3 separate regions of the Homo sapiens genome follow, and all the other regions are linked to region 2. The links come from fine-mapping of genetic effects on gene expression. A gene starts in region 2. Each other region holds a variant in brackets. All regions are shown on one strand. Distances are between the middles of the regions. Region 1 overlaps RASSF3 (Ras association domain family member 3). Region 2 holds the start of RASSF3 (Ras association domain family member 3). Region 3 overlaps RASSF3 (Ras association domain family member 3).

What was found. PIP is the estimated chance that this variant, and not a neighbour inherited with it, causes the effect.
Region 1: its variant is the best candidate, but not a certain one, in a credible set for the expression of RASSF3 in whole blood (INTERVAL, PIP 0.76).
Region 3: its variant is the best candidate, but not a certain one, in a credible set for the expression of RASSF3 in atrial appendage (GTEx, PIP 0.73).

Annotation. Positions count from the first base shown.
Region 1 is chr12:64,628,507-64,635,849 of GRCh38, reverse strand. The region is part of intron 1 of RASSF3 (Ras association domain family member 3); the gene reads right to left. Among named protein-coding and RNA genes, the nearest start is that of MIR548Z, 9.6 kb to the right of the region's middle. The variant T/C (reference allele first, on the strand shown) is at 3,288.
Region 2 is chr12:64,606,872-64,614,214 of GRCh38, reverse strand. RASSF3 (Ras association domain family member 3) reads right to left here and starts at 3,720. Exons shown (of 5, transcript NM_178169.4): 1 at 3,472-3,720. The coding sequence starts at 3,582. RASSF3-DT (RASSF3 divergent transcript) reads left to right here and starts at 4,749. Exons shown (of 2, transcript NR_187549.1): 1 at 4,749-4,870. RefSeq lists silencers at 3,191-3,260, 3,471-3,990, 4,151-4,220 and enhancers at 4,851-4,910, 5,131-5,180.
Region 3 is chr12:64,643,668-64,651,010 of GRCh38, reverse strand. The region is part of intron 1 of RASSF3 (Ras association domain family member 3); the gene reads right to left. Among named protein-coding and RNA genes, the nearest start is that of MIR548Z, 25 kb to the right of the region's middle. RefSeq lists an enhancer at 2,541-3,264. The variant C/T (reference allele first, on the strand shown) is at 2,961.

The sequences.
Region 1 (7,343 bases), 22 kb before region 2:
TTACTTTAACCATAACCTTTTAATGTCCCTTCCCATTGTCCCTTGACCCTCACAGCCCAGGCTCCACACACATGCACAAAGTCCTCATCCCCTCATCTTCAATAACACAACAGTCACCCTAACTAGGCTGCAGCTTCCCCTCTTCTTACCGCTTTTTAAAAGCCTGTGCTCTCACACCAGACCACCCAGTTTCTAACGTTGGTTAATCTAATTACCAGCTACTATTTAACCTCTCTGTGCCTCTTCTAATAACTGTACCACATCACAGAGTTGGTGTGAGAATGAGATGAATCAGTATGGGTAAAAGGTATTGCAAGTGTACCATAAATGTGAGCCATCCTTATCAACAGCAGCGTGCTCTTCACTGCCCTTACACAGACATTGACAGTGGTCATTAAATGGCTCTTTATGACTTTCCACTAGCCCATGTGCTAGAAGGCAGAGCTACTAGCTTACTCCTCTTTGAATTCCCAGAGAAAACCACAGCAATGGGTATTAGACAGGCACGTAATAAATGTGTGATACTATAAAACAGGAATACAGATACGAGGGGTCATCAAAAATTTCAAGGAAAATGAATATTATGAAAAAACTACGGCCAGGCATGGTGGCTCATGCCTGTAATCCCAGCATTTTGGGAGGCTGAAGCAGATGGATTGCTTGAACTCAGGAGCTTGAGACCAGCCTTGGAAACATGTCAAAACCCTATCTCTCCAAAAAATACAAAAATTAGCCAGGTGTAGTGGTATGTACCTGTAGTCCTAGCTACTCAGGAGGCTGAGGTGGGAAAAGGGTGACAGAGGTTGCAGTGAGCCAAGACTGCACCACTGTATTTCAGCCTGGATGACAGAGATAGATCTTGTCTCAAAAAAAAAAAAAAAAGAAAAGAAAAGAAAAGAAAAAGAAGAAACTATGCATGGATTTGAAAAATTTTTTGCACCAAAATAAACTTGTACTAACTTGTCATAACATGTCTGAGCAAAACCTAGTTTGAGGCACTAAGAAGGATAAACATCAGTTTGAAAAGAGCCCCTATCAGAGCAACATAAATTCTGCTAATTTTTTTTTTTTTTTTTTTTTTTTTTTTATGAGATGGTGTCTCGCTGTGTCGTGCAGGCTGGAGTGCAATGGTGCCATCTCGGCTCACTGTAAACTTTGCCTGCCAAATTCAAGCGATTCTCATGCTTCAGCCTCCGGAGTAGCCGAGAATACAGGTGCCTGTCACCACGCAGGGCTAGAATTCTGCTAAAATTGAAGCAAAAACAAACATCAAATTTATGGTGAAGCTTGGGCAGAATGGTGAAATCACTGTTGCTTTTTGAAAAGTTTGTGGGGACAATGCCCCCCAAAAATCAGCAGTTTTCAAGTGGATAACCCTTCAAGAAGTGCCGGGTGCAGTGGCTCACACATGTAATCCCAGTTGGGAGGCTGAGGAGGATCACTTGAGCTCAGGAGTTCAAGACCAGCCTGGATAACATAGTAAGAACTCATTTCTATGAAAAAATGAATTTTTTTTTCAAAGTAGGAAAAAAAAAAAAAGGACAAGATGATGTTGAAGATAAAGCTCACAGCAGCAGACCCTCTGTGTCAATTTGCAAGAAAAAGGTTAACCTTGTTCATCTCCTAGTTTAAGAGAACTAATGATTAACAGCAGAAACAACAGCCAACACCATAGACATCTCAACTAGTTCAGCTCACACAATTCTTGTTTGTTTGCTTGATACAGGGTCTGGCTGTCACCCAGGCTGGAGTGCAGTGACTCATACTGGCTCACTGCAAACTCTGCCTCCCAGGCTCAAGCCATCTTCCCACCTCAGCCTCCCCAGTAGCTGGGACTACAGGGACATGTCACCATGCCCAGCTAATTTTTGTATTTTTTGTAGAGATACAGTTTTGCCACTTTGTCCAGGGTGGTCTCAAACTCCTGAGCTCAAGCAATCCTCCCACCTCAGCCTCCCAAAGTGCTGACTATAGGCGTGAGCCACCCCACTTGGTCCATATTTCTATCAGCATTTTGGTCAAATTTAATCAGTCTCTAAGAAGTTCCAAAACTTTCCCTTGTCTTCCTGTCTTCTTCTGACCCCTCCAAACTCTTCTAATCTCTGCCTATTACCCAGTGCCAAAGCCAGTTCCACATTTTCAGGTATCTTTATTGCGATGCCCCTCTCCTGGTACCAATTTTCTGTGTTTGTCTTTTCTTCATTGCTATAAAAGAGTATCTGAGGCTAGGTAATTTATAAAGAAAAGAGGTTTATTTTGGCTCACAGTTCTGTTGGCTGCACAGGAAACATGGCACCAACATCTGCTCCTGGTGAGGACCTCAGGAGGACCTCAGGAGGTGAAAGGAAAAGGGGAAGCAGGTGGTCACATGGCAGGAGAGGGAACAAGAGAGAGAGGAGGAGGTGCCAGGCTCTTTTTAAACAACCAGCTCTCACGTGAACAGAGTAAGAACTCACATATCACCAAGGAGGTGGTACTAAGCCATTCATGAGGGATCCATCCCCATAATCCAATACCTCCCACTAGGCCCCAACTCCAACATTGTGGATCACGTTTCAACATAAGATTTGAAGGCAACACACATCCAAACCGTATCAGTATCCACTGGTGTCAAAACCAGAGAATAATTAATGCAGTGTCACCACACTCAAAACATATGTTTCATCTTCAAAGACTTTTCAAAAACATAACCAGCTAGTCCCTGTCAGTCCTCTGAAGTCTCTTATCAAAAGGAATAAACAAAATGATTGAAGAAACAGATTTTAACCTGATAGGAAAAAAAACAAATAGAGCCAGATCAAGATAACAGCATTTCTATTGAAACTGCTTAGATTTATTTTCTAGCTTATTCTAGATGTGCTAATTTTGAGCTATTTGTGGAGCACCACCACATTCTGGTCTTCAAAGACTTTTTTTCTAAGAAAGTTAAAAATACACTCAAATGGTCTGTGAAGTTTACTCTTCCAGTCCATATCCACATCAAGATTTATTTTTCTCTTGTTATTTCAAATAAATCTCAACCACTTCCAATTCAAGGATGATGATCTCATGCTTCCATGAGATCTGAGGTCTGTCCTGAGCTTCAGACCCTTAATTCTGGCTGCAGCTGGATGCTACACAAATGTTGCGTATAGGCCCTAAAACCGAGTTGTTCCCCTACCTCACTAAACCTGTTCCTCTTCCTCCCGTGCTCCCCATTCCACAGTGGCATGGCCATCCTCCCACCCAGCCACCTTCCATACCTCCTTCTTTTCTCTCGTCTCCTTCCTTGCCTCCCCTCACCCTGG[T/C]CGATCAGGTGCCAATGTGACAACTCAATTTCTGGAGTCCTTCTCTCTCCCACTGCAACTATCCTATTTCTAGCCCTAATTACCTTCACCCAGGTTACCGCAATCACCTTCCAAACAATATCCCTACCCCTCTTGCCCTCTAAACTCTGCTGTCAGTTTTAAAATCATAGGTCTGACCACTTTATTTCTCCCTAAGTGGCTCCTCCTTACTCACAAAATATTCAATCCTCAGGCTGGCAAGCACGGCCTTTCAGAGCCTGCCAACCCTCCCTCCTTTCCAGCGTAGTTTTTCACCACACCTTTGGCGTGGCAACCTTTGCTGCAGCCATACCACCACTTGGTCCCAAATACCCCAGCACTCCCCTCTTCTGGCCCGGTGCCTGCCTGTGTGGGCTTCTCTTCATGCACCACTCCCACATGTGCATACCCACCTCCTCCATCAATATCCACCTGCCACCAACTGAAAGGCCTAGTCACCCCCTCTTGTATTATATACACATTTCTAGATTGAACTTCTCCTCCACTCAACGATGGGAGAGACGTCTTCTTTCTAAGCAGCCTTCTACTTAGAATCCAAATATCATCCCTTCCAGTGCGAAGGGAGGCATCTCTTTCAATGATCCTCACTCCCCTGACACTCAGTCTTCTTTCCATTGAAGTCCTCTCATCTAAAAATAAATAAAAAACAGGCCGGGTATGGTGGCTCTCCCCTGTAATCCCAGCACTTTGGGAGGCCGAGGTGGGCGGATAACCTGAGGTCAGGAGGTTGAGACGAGACCAGCCTGGCCAACATGGCAAAACTCCATCTCTACTAAAAATACAAAAATTAACTGGGTGTGGTAGCAGGTGCCTGTAATCCCAGCTACTTGGGAGGCTGAGGCAGGAGAATCTTGAACCCGGGAGACAGAGGTTGCAGTGAGCAGAGATTGCACCACTGCACTCCAGCCTGGGCGACAGAGCAAGACTATGTCTCAACATACATACATACATACATACATACATACATACATACATACATACATACATTACATACGATGACAACACCCTTACCACTTCCCTCGCCCTTGTAGGCTCCTCATTTTACTACACCATCCTCTCCTTGCCAGACAAGCCTCACGGAAGAGCACCTCTACTCACTCTCCTGCTTCCTCTGCACTATTCACTCACCACCCACTGCAGTGTGACTGTACGCCTCCAGTTCACTGGAGTGGCTCTCCTCAAGGTCTCCAGAGACTGCCACACAGTTCCACCCCAGGCCTTCTTGGCTTTTCTGAAGCACTTGTCCCATGGCCAAGCCCTTGTTCTTGAGGTGGTCCCAACCTCCGATCCCAGGACAACCACCCTTTTCTTTTTCTCCAGCTTCTCTGACCACTCCTTGGTTCCTCCATGGACATGCCCTTCTCTGCCCACTTCTTACCTGCTGGTGCCCCCATGCTTCTGTGGTATCCTCCATGCTTCTGTCTAAAGACACCTTTTTTGCTTTACACACATAGTTCATCTAAGCCCATGACTTCAACGAATCCTGAAGCTCTCTCTGCAGACCAGGTCTACCTTCTTGATAAGAAACTCCAGAAACTTTGATAGCCCACAGACATCTCAAAACACACATGCCCAGATTTACTCACTCAAAATTTATTGACTGCCTGGTGTATGCCATATATTGATTGCCTGAATGTGTCTTCCCTCCTAAACCTGATCTTTCTTCTTACTTGATTTCTTGGTGAGTGGCTGCTTGCTAGCACCATCTTCCAAGGCTCCCAAACCAGAAACCTACAACTCTTCCTTGACTCCTCTTTCTCACCACCTCTCTGCCCACATTCAGTGTTACTAATGCCTCCCAATTAACCAGTATCTCCAACCCAGCCCCTCCTCTACTTCATCCCCACATTCATGCCTTCATTCCATTTTAATAACTAAACATCTACTGAGAACTAGCTATAACTCATTCCTGAGTAGGCATATGATCACATGTCCTGGGAGTAAAAAGAACAGTTCAGGATTTCTAAGCACCCTTTTTTTAAATTTCGTTTTGTTTTTGAGATAGGGTCTGTCTCTGTCATTCAGGCTACAGTGCAGTGGTGTGACCATAGCTCACTGCAGCCTCAAACTGCTAAGCTCAAGCAAACCTCTTGCCTCAGCCTCCCAAATAGCTGGGACTACAGGCACAAACCACCATATTTGGATAATTTCTCTTTTTTCAGTAAAGACAATGTCTCGCTCTGTTGCCCAGTCTGGTCTCAAACTCCTGGGCTTAAACAATCCTCCTGCCTCAGCCTCCCAAAGTGCTGGGATTACAGGCATGACCCACCATGGCCTTGCTAATTTTTAACTTTATATCTCTTTTTTGGATGACAAAAATTATACATATGGCAGCCCACATTTTCCCTTTTGATGAATGAAAAATCTTAAAATCAATGAGTGCTTACATGAGTGGAATGCCTATGTGTAAATTCAGAGGTACTTCAAATATTTCATAACTGAAACATTTAGGATCTGGGAATTTGGTGCTGTTATTTGCCACAAAATGCAAACAACCTTTTAGTTCACATAAACCATTTTTCTTTCTTGTTCTTTTTTTCTTTTTCTTTTTTTTTTTTTTTTGAGATGGAGTCTTGCTCTGTCACCCAGGCTGGAGTAGTGGCACAATCTCAGCTCACTGCAACCTCCACCTCCCAGGTTCAAGTGATTCTCCTGCCTCAGCCTCCCGAGTAGCTGGGATTACAGGCGCACACACCATGCCCAGCTAATTTTTGTATTTTTAGTAGAGATGGGGTTTCATCACGTTGGCCAGGCTGGTCTCAAACTCCTGACCTCAGGTGATCCACCCACCTCGGCCTCCCAAAGTGCTGGGATTACAGGCATGAGCCACCGCGCCTGGTCCACATAAACCATTTTTATACAACACTCATTTTCATAGGCCAACTTTTCCAATTAAAACAAACATAATATGTGAGCAGCTACCAAAATCAGCTATTTCTTCATATTATCACATTACATATAAAAATCCACCACAGAATTTCAGGACTACTAGGATCTGTTTAATGAAAAGGGCAGGAGTTGCTAGAAAAATAATTTTTTATGATTTTCATAACATATCAAAAGGTTGTATAATTATGCATTTAAGTATAGTCCTTCTAGCTGGAAGAATAGCAGTGGGACGGGCGCAGTGGCTCATGCCTATAATCCCAGCACTTTGGGAGGTCAAGGCAGACAGACGGCTTGAGCCCAGGTGTTTGAGACCAGCCTGGGCAATGCTGTGAAACCCCATCTCTACAAAAAAAAAAATACGAAAAATTAGCTGGGTGTGGTGGCACGTACCTGTAGTCCTAGCTACTCGGGAGGCTGAGGTGGGAGGATTGCTTGAACCCATAGGCAGAGGTTGCAGTGAGCCAAAGTCACGCCACTGTACTCCAGCCTGGACGACAGAGTGAGACCTTGTCTTAAAAAAAAAAAAAAGAAAATTAGTCGGGTGTGGTGGTCTGCACCTGTGATCCCAGCTACTAAGGAGGCTGAACTGGAACGATCACTTGAGCCTGGGAGGTGAAGGCTGTGGTGAGCTGTGTTCACGCCACTGCACTCCAGCCTGGGTGACAAAGCAAGACCCTGTCTCAAAAAAATAATAATAATAAAATAAAATAAAAATTAGACAACTGACTCTGGCATTTTATAATAGGATTTAACTTGCTGAAAGTTTCCTAGGAATATTTACCTCTATGTGTAGGCTGGAATAAAGGAGACACTTGAAGCAAGTAAAAGAAATTAATCAGGCCGGGTGTAGTGGCTCACACCTGTAATCCCAGCACTTTGGGAGGCCAAGGCAGGCAGATCACCTTAGGTCACGAGTTCAAGACCAGCATGGCCAACATGGCAGAACCCCATCTTTACTAATAATACAAAAATTAGGCAAGTGTGGTGGTGCATGCCTGTAATCCCAGCTACTCGGGAGGCTGAGGCAGGCAGAATTGCTTGAACCTGGGAGGTGGGGTTGCAGTGAGCCAAGATCGTGCCACTGCACTCCAGCCTGGGCGACAGAGAGAGACTCCATGTCAAAAAAAA
Region 2 (7,343 bases):
TTGCAGTGAGCCGAGATCACGCCATTGCACTCCAGCCTGGGCAACAAGAGTGAAACTCCATCTCAAAAAAAAAAAAAAAAAGAAATGGTAAAGACCCAGTTACTATCAAATCAGGAAAACATTCATTCATTCAGCTTGCATTCACTGAGCAACTACTGTATATCAGGTACTGATCGAGACCCTGCGGATACAATAAACATGACATTCAAACTGCCACAAAACGTCATATGTTCGTTCCCTTTATATCTTTTAGACAGTTTTGTTTTTGAGACAGGGTCTCGCTCTGTTGCCCAGGCTGGAGTGCAGTGGTGCGATCACAGCTCACTGCAACCTCTGCCTCCCGGCCTTAAGCAATGCTCCCACCTCAGTCTCCCGAGTAGCTGGGACTACAGGCGAGCACCACCATGCCTGACTAATTTTTGCATTTTTTTTGTAGAGACAGGGTTTCACCATGTTGTCCAGGCTGGTCTCAAACTCCTGGGCTCAAGCAATCCTCCCATCTCAGCCTCCCAAAGTGCTGGAATTACAGGCATGAGCTACCACACGTGGCCTAGACAGGTTTTTTAACCCTTTTCCATTTTTGTTGTTGTTCTTGTTGTTAAGAATGGGGTTTAAAGTAAGAAAAAAAATGAAAACATTTTCTTTATAAGGTTTTTGTTACTGTTGGGGATAGAAAGAAGTTGCACTATGTTCCCTTGCCTGGCAAGAGAAGAAAGAAATTTCCAGTCCACCCGCTCCCTCACCCCTTTCTCCCCATTCTGCATTTACCACAAACATCTTGTTTTCTCCGGATATTTTCAAGAAATCTAGAAACCTCATTTTTCTCACTTTTCCACCAGGTGGTACAGCATCCAAAAAAAAAAAAAATCACTGTATCTCTAATAGATCCTTCTAGCAATACCTCTCTTTCCATCTCTCTAGAGAAAGGATAAATTTCACTACTATGATGTATGTCAGAAGTGCTTATCTTATTCTTATAATCATCAGCATGAAAATGAAGAAAAAGGCTTATCTAACGTTAGATAAAAGGAACATTCTACATTAAGAGTGTTTTGCTTTATATTTATGATGTTTTACTTCCCTAATTCACCAATCTTACCAGGAATTTAAAACATTCATATCACTTCTTTAAATAAACCACAATGCTCACTAAAATTCGTAGTTTAGAACACTTTCTCTGCCTGGCAAATAACTTCTACAACTCAGCACCTTACATGTGTTATGTTAGAAGGGAAAAATATGCAGGCAATAAAGCTTCAAATACACATATGAAGCTCTTCAACCACGAACTATGTCTTCCTGTCCTGATTTCCAACACGATATTTCAAAATACATATTAATGTTAGACTAATTCTAAATGCTAAATAATACTACCCTGAGTATAATATATATGCTAGATGATACATAAATGATTGCATACAACATAGAAACAATAAATGTGCCGGGGGCGGTGGCTCACATCTGTAATCCCTGCACTTTGGGAGGCCAAGGCGGGCAGATTACCTGAGGCCAGGAGTTCGAGACCAGCCTGGCCAACATGGTTAAATCCCATCTCTACTAAAAATACAAAAATGAGCCAGATGTGGTGGTGCATGCCTGTAATCTCAGCTACTCGGGAAGCTGAGGCAAGGGAATCGCTTGAACCAGGGAAGCTGAGGTTGCAGTGAGATCACACGACTGCACTCCAGCCTGGGTAACACAGTGAGACTCCATCTCAAAAAAAAAAAAAAAAAAAGAAACGCTAAATGCATATAAACCTAGAAAAAAACTGATGTCTTTACTCTTTAAAGCACTAAAGGATTCTCATACAATTCAAACCTGAATAGTTTGGCCCTTGTGGCATCTCACCCCTGGAGAATCCAAGAACCAGCCAGTTTTCAGGAGATTAGCAGACACCTCTGGAATAAACTTCAAACTACCATGAGTTCCTTTTCATGTCAAGTGGTGAAAGCAACATAAATGAAAGGAGAAAATGCAAAACGGAGAAGGGGAAGAGAGAGGCCAAGAAAGAGAAAGCAAAAATGGAAAAAGCATAAGCAAATGCAATTTTTCTACAACCCAGGGAGGGTGGGCATGGGGGAGGAGAGGGCGTTTCCAACTTCCAAACTTCACAGCAATCTCATGCTCTCAGAACACACTCTGCTGAAAGTAAGAGATCCCACTCAAAGTGACTCGTAAATAGTGGGGCCTTAAGCCTTAGAAACAATACAAGACGGACAACTATGGCACCGGGACTTGAGATTAACTGCGGTTACTGAATAAGGGCACTTGACTTCAGCTTACCCTTCACCGTCTCCTCTCCTCCTCCTGGTTTGGGACTTAAGAGCCTGAAAAGACTAGAACTTCCGAATTTTAGAAAGAATTTTACTTCAGAAAGTGGCTAAACTTAAGAGGTCTGGCAAGACCACCCTGACAGATTGCACCCTCCCACATCCACCAAAAGAAGTTATCATCCGGCCCCTGAACGATTCTTCTTGCTTCTAGTCTCTAGGTCTCAGTCCGGTATTAATAGAAATGTTTGGCGAACGCCTGTTTTCTAAAAGCAACAAATTTGTGCCATTACAATCTTCTGTAATCTGATGTGAGCGTGGCCGGGTTGGCCCGGCTCCCCTGGTGCGGCTCCTAGTGCCAGGAGGCCGCGGGCTCTAGCACCGGGCTCCTCAGTCCAGCCGACGTGCCCCGTTTCGGGAAGGCCTCCCAAAAAACACGGCTACAGCTGGCGAAACTGGCACAAGTTCCCTTCCCATCTTTTCCCAACTCGTGCTTCCCACGGCATGCTGCCTCCAAAAAAGGAAGAAACCGGCGAAAAGGTTAGCTGTCGCTGGCTAGTATTTAGCATAGGAGCTTGTTTGCAAAACATCTGGGCACCAAAAAACCTAGCTTTACAGAAAACGCACAACCCTGAGTCCCGCAACGGAGATTTAGTGAGAGCCTATGGTGGCGAGGCCCACGGTGCCCTTGGACCCCCACTCCACCAGGTCGCCCGGGCCAGGAAGAGGGGAGGTCAGGTCACCCGGCCACCCCTAGCTATTACACGTTGACCCAAGCCACTCTGGGGGCCACAGATGAGTAAGCTGACTAACAGGAAGGACAGGCGCGCGAACCCGACCGTCGACCCAGCGGGGACGCGAAGGGGAAACCTGGGGGAGTGGCCCGGGGACGCCTGCTGGCTCCGGGGCTGCTCCCCGCAGGCGGCAGCCCGAGGCGGAGCTGCAGAGGCCATCTGGCGCGGAAGGCAGAAGCCGGCCCTCAGCCTCCCCGCCCTTCCTCCGCCTTCCCTCGCCTACACGCACAAGCTCCAGGCACGTTCCCGGGACCCGAAAAGGCAGAAGCCACTTCTCGGCCCGCTCCTCCTTCCCGGCGAGCATCCCCCGAGCGCCCCGCAGAGACACGTGGAGGCAGGGGGCGCGGGCTGGCGGGTTCCCCGGAACTCTGGGGCGCGGGCTGCAGCGCCCGCCGCGCGCCACTCACTTGTTGGCCGGAGCGGGGCTTGCCCTGGGGCGCTCTCCTGAAGAAGGAGGTCCTGGCGGTGAAGAAGAAGTCCTCGGCGTCCTCCTCCAGGCTGCTGTAGCCGCTGCTCATGCTGCCGGTCCCGTCGCGCGCGGGCGGCCTCCCCGGGGCGCAGGCGGCCAGGGAGGGGGTGCGGCGCCCGCCAGCCCCGCGAGGTTCCCGGCGCGCAGCCCCGGGCAGTCCTTATGCAGCTGCGGCCGCCGCTCAATCAGGCTCTCCCGGCCCCTCCTGCCGCCTCCCCGCCAGGCTCCAGGCGCGGCTCGGCCCCGGTGCGCCCGCGACCCCGCCTCCCTGGGCCCCGCCCCGGACGGGCGACCGGCCGAGCCCCACCCCGCGCGGCCGCGACCCTCCCCGCCCGCCCGCAGGTGGGGGGAGCCCGGCCCGCCCCTTCCAGGCGCGCGGGTTTCTCCCGACAGCGTCGCGGAACCCGGAAAGCCGGGCGCTAGGGCTGCGTCTGCTGGGGCTGTGCTCGGGTCGCTTCCTCAACCTCCCGGAAACTGCAAATTCCTCTGCGAGCCGTCCGCCCGCCCCCAGCCTCGCTGGCTCGAGTTTCGGAGAGGGCGGGAGCAGAGCGGGGAACTTTCTCTGCGTCCACTCCCTGCTCGCCCCCGCACCAGGGTCCTGTAGGGGTGGGTGGGGGTTGCCCGGCCGAGGGACCCCCCAGGTCCCACGGCTTCCTGCAGCCGCAACGCCCAGTCCTGAACCCCAGCAGCTCGCCCCTCCAGGAGGATTTCAAGTTGGCAGAGATGGGTGGGGAGGTCAAAAACTGGGTTGAGTTTATTCGAATGAAAACATCCTTTCTGGTCATTCATTTGAGCTTCGGTCTTACCCTTTTCCCCTTCTTTCTAGCGAGGGCTCACTTCCAAATAAGATCGTTATCTTAGGCGCACTCAGTGCAACTGAAAGGTGAACTAGTTCTATAGTTACAGAACAATCGAGTGCTTATCAATTAAATGTGCTTTGTAAATGTCCCCGCCACAATCAGCCTTCCACGGTCACCCACAAGGCATGGTTTAAGTGGTGGGGATAAGGAGATCAGGGAATTCCATCCATCCACGTACAAAAAAAGTTTCCATGTTTTCTAAAACTCTTCAGTCAGCTAATCCTCTTAAAGCCACCAGTGGGTAACAGTCTTTTACACCTTGGTGTTACTGCACTGATTTAAATAATACTAATTTCAAGATCTTGACTGAAAGGTTTTTTTGAAGCTGCAAGCCCTGCTATAGTTAGCGAGCTTCAGAAGAGGTTTCATTAGGAGGGGAAGAGAGACGTTAGAAAAGAGAAAATGTCCATCCATCATAGCCAAACTAGCCAAACTCTCTTACATTATCTCCTTCAATCCTCCGAGCAACTCTGCAAGGTACGTAGTGCTATTTTATGCCGGTTTTACACCTAGAGCAGCAGCTGAGGCTTAAAGAAAGGAAAGTGGCTGTAGGAGGCAGTACTCGGACCGTTCTGCTTTGCGTTCTGTTGATCTGAACGTGGTCACATACCCTACTGGGTTCTCTGCTTGGTATCGGTCAGCCGTGCTCTTTTGTGGACTACAGGAGGAAGAGTTGGACCCGAAATGACGGGAAGGAGAGAAGAATTGACTCATGAGTCATCCTACTGTCCCTAGGCTGAAAGAAGGCTTGCAAACCTGCTCCACCTTCGGGCTTACACATCCATCTTGTAAACTAGTATATATTACCCCACGTGATTCACAACAACTCCAGAAGGAGGGCCTTTGAGTTACAGCCCATTTTAAAGGTCCTACAACATTAAAGTCTTCTTCTCGGCCACACAGCTACTGAATGATAGGAAGCCAGGAATTCTAACTCCATATAGTTTCACCCAGCTTAAGCTGATCCGTGTGTGTGCCATGCACATAATCTAATGTAGGAGAATAGGGCTTTATGACAAATTTTTCTTATTTGGTTTCTCTTATTTCATTATTCAGATATAATATTAGCGCAGCTCTTATTAAATATTCCAAGGTAAGAATAATGTGTAGGTTAAGGGCTTAAATTACTCATTTTATTGTGGGTAGAAAGGGGAAAATAATTTTACCTAGAACAAGTTGAAGTTTATGAATACTTTGAGGAAAAATGCATTAAAATGCTTTATTGGCCGGGCGCGATGGCTCACGCCTGAGGAGGCAGAGGCGGGTGGATCACTTGAGGTCAGGAGTTGGAAACCAGCCTGGCCAACGTGGTGAAACCCCGCCTCTACTAAAACTACAAAAATTAGTTGGGCGTGGTAGCGTGCGCCAGCTACTCGGGAGGCTGAGGCAGGAGAATCGCTTGAACCCGGAGTGGCCTAGGTTGCAGTGACCCGAGGTGGCGCCATTGCACTCCAGTCTGGGCGACAAGAGCAAAACTTCGTCTCAATAAATAAATAAATAAACTTTATGATGCACCACACCATAAAAATGATTTTTTTCATTGTATTATTTTTAAGCTCCAAAGGACTGGATTAATTTGTATATCTGTCAGCATACCATCAGAATCAGTTATAATAAAAAGGCATGATTGAGTGGGGCACAGGGGGAAGCTGAGGTGGAGGATCACTTGAACTCAGGAGTTCCTATCCAGCCTGACCAACATAGTGAGACCTTTTCTCTAAAAAAAAATGATTTTTTTATAAAGGCATGATTAGGCCAGGCATGGTGGTTTACGCCTGTAATCCCAGCACTTTGGAAGGCCGAGGTGGGAGGATTGCTTGAAGCCAGGAGTTCAAGACCAGCCTGGGCAACAAAATGAGACCCTGTCTCTACAAAAACAAAAACAAAAAACAAAAAAAAATTAGCCAATGTGGTGTCACATGCTAGTGGTCCCAGCTACTCAGGAGGCTAGGTGGAAGGATCACTTGAGCCCAGAAGTTTGAGGCTGTAATGAACTATGATCTTACCACTGCACTCTAGCCTGGGTAACAGAGTAAGAGTCTGTCTCTTAAAAAAATAAATAAATAAAATAATTTTAAAAGCCATGATCAAATAATGAAATGGAAGCACTGCTTTTAAGCAACAAAAAAAACATAAATAAAGGAAAGGGCCGAGTGAGGTGGCTCACGCCTGTAATGCCAGCATTTTGGGAGGCTGAGGCCGGCAGATCACTTGAGGTCAGGAGTTCAAGACCAGCCTGACCAACATGGTGAAACCCCCATCTCTACTGAAAATATATAAAAAAATTAGCTGGGCATGATGGCACATGCCTGTTGTCCCAGCTATTCGGGAGGCTGAGGCAGGAGAGTCACCTGAGCCCTGGAGGCAGAGGTTGCAGTGAGCCAAGATCACGCCACTGCACTCTATCCTGGGCGACACAGGGAGACTCTGCCTCAGAAAATAAATAAATAAATAAATAAATAAAGGAAGGAAGAATTGTGATTTTGTTTCCTAAAAGCAGCATAATGATATTTGCATATTTTTCTGGTAGCTTTTTTTTTTTTTGAGACAGGGCCTCACTTTGTTGCTGGAGTGCAGTGGTGCCATGTTGGCTCACTGCAGCCTCGACTTCCCAAGCTCAAGCAATCCTCCCACCTCAGCCTCCCGAGTAGCTGGGACTACAGGCATATGCCACCAGGCCTGGCTAATTTTTATATTTTTTTTGTAGAGACAAGATCTCACTATGTTGCCCAGGCTGGTCTTGATGAACTCTTAGGCTCAAGTGATCCTCCCACCTCGGCCTCCAAAAAGGCTGGGATTACAGGTGTGAGCCACCATGCCTAGCCTGGTAGCATTTTTAATTAAAATATTGTGAATTTAAAATTTAGCTCATGAAAATTGTATCTGTAAAAATTCAAAATGTCATGTTAAGCAACTAGACACTTTTAACATTTCAAATTCAGGGAAGGGG
Region 3 (7,343 bases), 37 kb before region 2:
TGGAAACCACTTTACAAGCCTGTAAGAAATCAGTGTTGGTCACAGTAGAGGCAAAAGGCAAAGAGCCAGCCATACAATCGCGCATGCACAAGTCATAAAGTTTATAGCAAAGTGTGACTAAAAGTAAATACTCGGTGCAAGGGTTTTCCAATGAGGATGATACAGCTTAGGCAAAAATGTGTAAGATTCAACACGAAACATCTAAGACAGCAATTCCCTTTAGTGAAACCATTGTTTAAGGTACAGGAAAAGACTTTTTTTAAGACTCCTAAAAATCCTTTAGAAATAAACAACTCGGCCAGGCGCGGTGGCTCACGCCTGTAATCCCAGCACTTTGGAAGTCCAAGGCGGGCAGATCACAAGGTCAGGAGTTCGAGACCAGTCTGGCCAACATAGTGAAACCCCGTCTCTACTAAAAATACAAAAAATTAGCTGGGTGTGGTGGCGCGCACCTGTAATCCCAGCTACTTAGAAGGCTGAGGCAGAAGAATCCCGTGAACCTGGGAGGCAGAGGTTGCAGTGAACCCAGACTTGCACCATTGCACTCCAGCCCAGGTAACAGTGCAAGACTCTGTCTCAAAAAAAAAAAAAAAAAAAAAAAAGGAAAAAAAAAGAAACACCTCCTGGCTGAGGACAACTATCACTGAGGTCATCACTGAGCACAGCACAAAGGTCCTATCAAGGACCTGTCAAGGTCCTGTCATGGCAGCGCTGCTTCAGGCTTGCCTTGAGGCACTGCTTCCTCTTTGGCATGGAGATAATCGAATTTGTTTATCAAATTGGCCAATGACATCTGGGAGGGTAAGCCAGATCACAGGCTCAAACAGGGTGAATCCAAGATAGAATTAAAGGCACATTTAAAGTTTATACTGGGGATCCCCTGTCCCTGCCCCTGCAAATACATGCGTGTATCATCTACATGACAAGAGACAAATAAATGGTCCCACTAAACAATGCTGGTGCGTAAATTTGGGGTTGCCTTATTTGAAAAGCAATACTGGCAAAGAGCAACAGTTCAGAGGGAATCATAACAAAGGCTCTGAAAACTACACAAGAGCATACTGGGGATGTTAGTGTGGGAAAAAGGAAAACTGGGAGAAACAGTAAAAAGTGTCTTTATAATCGTAAAGAATATCATGTATAGGGTGGGCTGGCCTTGTGCTCCCTGCAAGGCCCACACTGTGAAAGCTATTCAGGGAGACCGTTTAGTTTATTTCACCAAAGAGCTTTTCTGATCCTCAAAATTGCCCACAAATGGCTTGCCCAAAGAAGTTGGCACACTCTTTGTTTTGGAAGTGTTAAGCATGACGACTTTGGAAACAAGATCTTTTCGAGACATTTGACACTGATAACTTGGCTATCGAGACGGCATGATTTTTCCTGAGTTCCCTGAGAACTCAGAGATATGACTATGTCCTAACCGGGTACCCTAGGACCATTTTCCTCACTGCTTCTTACCTGCAGAGTGGGCAGAGAATATGCACTAGAAGCCAAGGTGCTTTTAAAAATCCAGATGGCTGGCCAGGCGCAGTGGCTCATGCCTGTAATCCCAACACTTTCGGAGGCCAAGGCAGACGGATCACAAGGTCAGGAGATTGAGACCATCCTGGCTAACACGGTGAAACCCTGTCTCTACTAAAAATACGAAAAATTAGCCGGGTGTGGTGGCGGGTGCCTGTAGTCCCAGCTACTCCAGAGGCTGAGGCAGGAGAATGGAGTGAACCCGGGAGGCGGAGCTTGCAGTGAGCCGAGATCGCGCCACTGCACTCCAGCCTGGGCGACAGAGCGAGACTCCATCCCAAAAAAAGAAAAAAAAAAACCCAGATGGCTGCTGAGACCCCAAGAACACCAATTAGAAGCTCCAGGGTCAGACCAAGCCAGAGGGTTTTCAAGAGCTGTATGAGTAGCTGGACTCATTCCTTTACTTTAATCCCAGCACCCTGAGAGGCCAAGGCAGGAGGATCGCTTGAGGCCATGAGTTTGAGACCAGCTGGGCAACATAATGAGACCCTGTCTCTACAAAACATTTTTTAAATCATTAGCCGGGCATGGTGGCACACACCTATAGTCCTAGCTACTCGGTAGGCTGAGGGGTGAGGATCACCTGAGTCCAGAAGTTGGAGGTTACAGTAAGCCAACACTGTACTACTGCACTCCAGCCTGGGTAACAGATCGAGCCCCTATCTCTAAAAAAAAAAAAAAAAAAAATCAATGTAAAAACAAGAAGCTTGGCCGGGCTTGGTGGCTCATCCTTGTAATCCCAGCACTTTGGGAGGTCGAGGCAGGCGGATCACAAGGTCAAGAGATCGAGACCATCCTGGCTAACATGATGAAACCCCGTCTCTACTAAAAATACAAAAATTAGCTGGGTGTTGTGGCGCATGCCTGTAGTCCCAGCTACTTGGGAGGCTGAGGCAGGATAATCGCTTGAATCCAGGAGGTGGAGGTTGCAGTGAGCCAGGAACGTGCTCCATCTCAAAAAAAAAAAAAGCTTTATGAGTGATTCTGACACCACACCCACCGCTGGTTAACCCACTATGCCCTAGAGCTCTAGCCGGGAGCCTCTGTCTATTCCCATAGCTCCTACAACCAGTTTTGTGAGTCCCATGTCCATTTTCTCCAGCCCAGATATACCTCCCAGCTAGCCTTCAGTCCCACATGATGGACATCCTACTGCAAGTTCTCCATCAGCCTCTCCACCTCCACATGCTGCCACACCACTGCCCAACTAATCGTCCAGCGGGAAATGCCTCAAAAGGCCACAAGGCCTGACATTCAAGAGTCTCCCTGACCTGGTCCAAATCTGGGGCCACCTACTCACTAAGTTTATGCCTGTCACACATGTACCCACCAAACAGAAGTATCTGCAATTTGAGGCACAAATTCTATCTCCACCCACTGGCCCAACTCCTAGTGTTCACATGTCTATGATCCAGCCACTTTGCAAAGCACAGCTCAAA[C/T]ATCTTCTGCTACACAAAGGCTGGTACCACCAACAGCCCCAGCACTTCCTCAGGACCTGTCCTCTGTACTTTCCATAGATGTCATGGCTGAACATATGCATTTCTAATCTTGGGTGCTATACACAGTGCTCTTGAAGGTTGGACCTATTTCTCATTTATTCTATTTTATAAGCCTCAAAGGGCCTAAAAACAACCTTGGGAGGCTGGGGACAGTGGCTCATGCCTGTAACCCCAGCACTTTGGGAGGCTGAGATGGGAGGACTGCTTGAGCCCAGGAGTTGGAGACCATCCTGGGCAACAGGGCAAAACCCTGTCTCTATAAAAAAAAATACAAGGCCGGGGCCGGGCGCGGTGGTTCATGCCTGTAATCCCAGCACTTTGGGAGGCCGAGGTGGGCAAATCATGAGGTCAGGAATTCGAGACCAGCCTGGCCAACATGGTGAAACCCCGTCTCTACTAAAAAATACAAAAAATTAGCCGGGCGTGGTGGTGGATGCCTGTAATCCCAGCTACTCTGGAGACTGAGACAGGAGAATCACTTGAAATCGGGAGGCGGAGGTTGCAGTGAGCCAAGATCATGCCATTGCACTCCAGCCTGGGCAACAGTGCAAGACCCCGTCTCACCAAAAAAAAAAAAAGAAAAAAAAATTAGCCGAGCATGGTGGTGTGTGCCTGCAATCCCAGCTGCTCAGGAAGATCACTTGAGCCTGGGAGGCTGAGCCTGCAGTGAGCCATGATCGTGCCACGGCACTCCAGTCTTGGTGACAGAGTGAGGCTCTGTCTTAAAAAAAATAAAATAAATAAATAAATAAATAAAACCCTTGCTGAGAAAAACAACTATGGGTTTCATTTATCTTTTACCAGAACTGGGGTGCCAGGAGGTGGAGGGATTCTCAGTTTAAAAGATAAAAGAAATTGGGTTAGTAAATCCTAACTACATAGAGATCATTTTTATTAATAATCATAAGAAAGGGGCCTAATTCCATCCTTTGTAGTTAGACAGACCTAGATTAAAATTCTAGCTTCTGCACTTACTAGCTAGATAAACTTGGGCAAATTACTTAACCTCTCAAAGCTTTAGCTTCTTCATCTATAAAATGGGGATAGCAAAGATACATATACTTTATTGGGTCATGATAGAAAGTAAATGAACTAAGGAATACAAATCACTTCTCACAGAGCCTGACCCAGAGGAGGCCCTCAGTAACCGCTACAGTTGTTATTATTACCAGATCTGCAAAATGTACACACAGGCATATTATTCCTGGGTCTTTCACTCTATTTCAACAGAAAAAAAAAAAAAATGGAGAGAGAAACCAAACACTGATCCCTTTTGAAGTATGAGGTTTTCCATAGGAATTTGCAGTGATTTTTTAATATTTCAGCATGAATATAAGAGGGGAGAAGAAGAACATAAGCATAATTAGACTAGAATTTGGACAATGTTAACTTACAGTAGATGGGTAGGGAGGGTCCATTCAGAAATTATTTTTGGTTGTCATTGAAATAAATACTACATCTGAATAAGATGCTGAGCAAAGCTTTAGGCTATGTATTGGTTATTCATCTTCATCCCACCCAACTTGCACTAATCAGAAACTTCCTTGGGAGTTCCTTTCTCCTGTAAGTGAGGGTGCTTCCTACTTGAAGACACAATTAAAAATGGAACAACTAAAGAGACTGTTAGCAAGGATGTGGAGAAAACAGAACTCTCATCCATTGCTAGTGGGCATGTACGTCAGTCTAACACAGTTAGAAAACTGGTAATATCTACTAAAGCCAATGATACACCTACTCTACAATGCAGTAATTCCACTCTTAGGTATATATATAGCCAAGAAAAATGAAGGGTTATGTCCACCAAAGGACACGTTCTACAAGAATGATCAAAGCAGCTGATTGACAATCCAAATGTTCATCAAGAGAATGGATAAATAATGATATATTCAAACAATGTAATATTTTACAACAATGAAGAATTACTGATATATGCAATAACATGGATGAATCTCAATGTGTGGCACTGACTTGGGCAAAAGATGTCAGCTGCAAGAGTGCATACTGCATGATTTTACTTATATGAAGTTCAAGATGCGGCAACATTAACTCAGGGTGATAAAAGTCAGACTAGTGGTTCTAGCCAAGGGCTGGGGAGATTACTGATTGTGAACAGTCACATAGGAACCTTCCTGGGTAACAGAAATGTACTGCATTTCTACATCTGGGTGGTAGTTAAACATAGAGACTCATTAGATTGTACAATTAAGATTTGTGCATTTTATTGTATATAAGTGATACCCCAATTTTTAAAAATTCAAAAGAATATCTACACAAATAAACATTGATACAACATGCCCCATTCTTAACCTCAGGAGTAAAACTATTTTTCTTTTTCTCTTTTTTTGGTAAGGATGGGAAGACAGGATAGAAGGCTAGTAATACAAACTTTGGCTTAATGAAACAGAATACACACCTAAAGCACACAAACTTCTCAAAATAAAAAAAAATTTCTTTATTTTTAAAATTTTATAATTTAAAAAGATAGAGACAGGGTCTCACTATGTTGCCCAGGCTGGTCTCAAACTCATGGCTTCAAACCATCCTCCCACCTCAGCCTCCCAAAGTGTCATGCCTCGCCAAAGTGAAAATATGAGCTGCCATGCCTCACCAAAGTGAAAATATTTCTTAAGGATAAATTCATCTCTCATGTACTTTATCCTATAAATGAGGGTGATAATAGAACCTCCCTCATAGAGTTACTGTGATGATACACATATTCAATACATATTCATCACTTAATACATTAATTAATGAATACAATACATATTCATTACTTAATAATGGTTTGCCAAAATTATTTGTTCATTTCCTTCAGTCCTTTTGATCCACTCCACAAAAATTCACAACCTGGCAGGTGTTCAATATTTGTTGAAAAAATTCAGAAAATCTCTCTCAGCATGCAAACCATAAATAATTCCCACCTTAATCCATAAGAAAGTCCTCAGGCTGTCACCAAGGCTGGAGTGCAGTGGCGTGATCATGGCTCACTGCAGCCTCAACCTCCCAGGCTCAAGTGATTCTCCACAGTAGCTGGGACTACTGGCACACGGCACCATGCTAAGCTAATTTTTTTATTTTTTATTTTGTAGAGACAGGTTTTGCTGTCTCTACACAAAAATGTGTTAGGGCTTCTCACACTAACATAGACACAAACCTCTGGGTATTCCCAGGTATCCTGGAAGTAACAGGATAAACATGGCATATGTATCTGAGGACATTCTACTTAAAAATTGACAGGAAAACCACACATATACATATACATTATATATATTTTTGTTTGTTTGTTTGTTTTTGGTTGGAGACAGGGTCTCTGCTGCCCAGGCTGGAGTGTAGTGATGCAAACACAGCTCACTGCAGCCTCAACCTCCTGGGCTCAGGTGATCTTCCCACCTTAGCCTCCCGGGTAGCTGGAACTACAGGCATGTGCAACCACGCCCAGCTAATTTTTGTATTTTTTTGCGGAGATGGGGTTTCTCCATGTTGCCCAGGCTGGTCTCCAACTCCTGGGCTTAAGTGATCTGCCCATCTCGGCCTCCTAAAGTTCTGGGATTATAGACATGAGCCACCTTGCCTGGACAGAAAACATATTGATATGTAAACAGATACTATTAAGAAGACTACAAATTTGCCTAAGATAATACAGGACACTCCAGAGAAACCTCTGCTGCTCAATTCAAGCTACGCTCTAGGCCATCACTCTTCCTGAGCTCCTCAGGTACTCTTTCCCTCTCTATATATTTCAGGAACAGTTTTGACAGGTTAGGCATAGGATATTTAGAATATTTCTGGTTCTCTACCTTAAACAACTCTAATCAATGTGCTTCAGGTTTTTTAATGCAATTTAAACTGATGACAAAGTTTAAGCTATTTCCTCAAATTATAAATACCACTCCATCTGGCTTACTATCCCTGCAGAGCAAAATATTTATTTTCAGCAATGTTGACATGCAAAAGCAAAAGAACAGGAAACTGTGTTTAAGAAAAACAAAATACCACAATAAGATTAACAAACTACATACAAGTTTACACTTACCTTTAGGAAGTTGTCTTTGTATGAAAAGTATATTTTCGATTCAATTGCATACACACAACAATGAAGCTTTACTTTGTTAAAATAATTAGTCAATCACTGGGAAACAAATGAAACTCTGAGATAAAGTGAAAAAACAAATTGCCCTTTTTAGAATTAACCTGCCAGTAATCTCTAGGTGCTTTTACCCAAAGACCCCAGTCTAAAATTCACATGCAAAACATTTTTTTCAGTTATAAAACAGAAGAGTTGTAGGACAGAAAAAACACAGAAGCCAAAAGAGATTGTCCTAT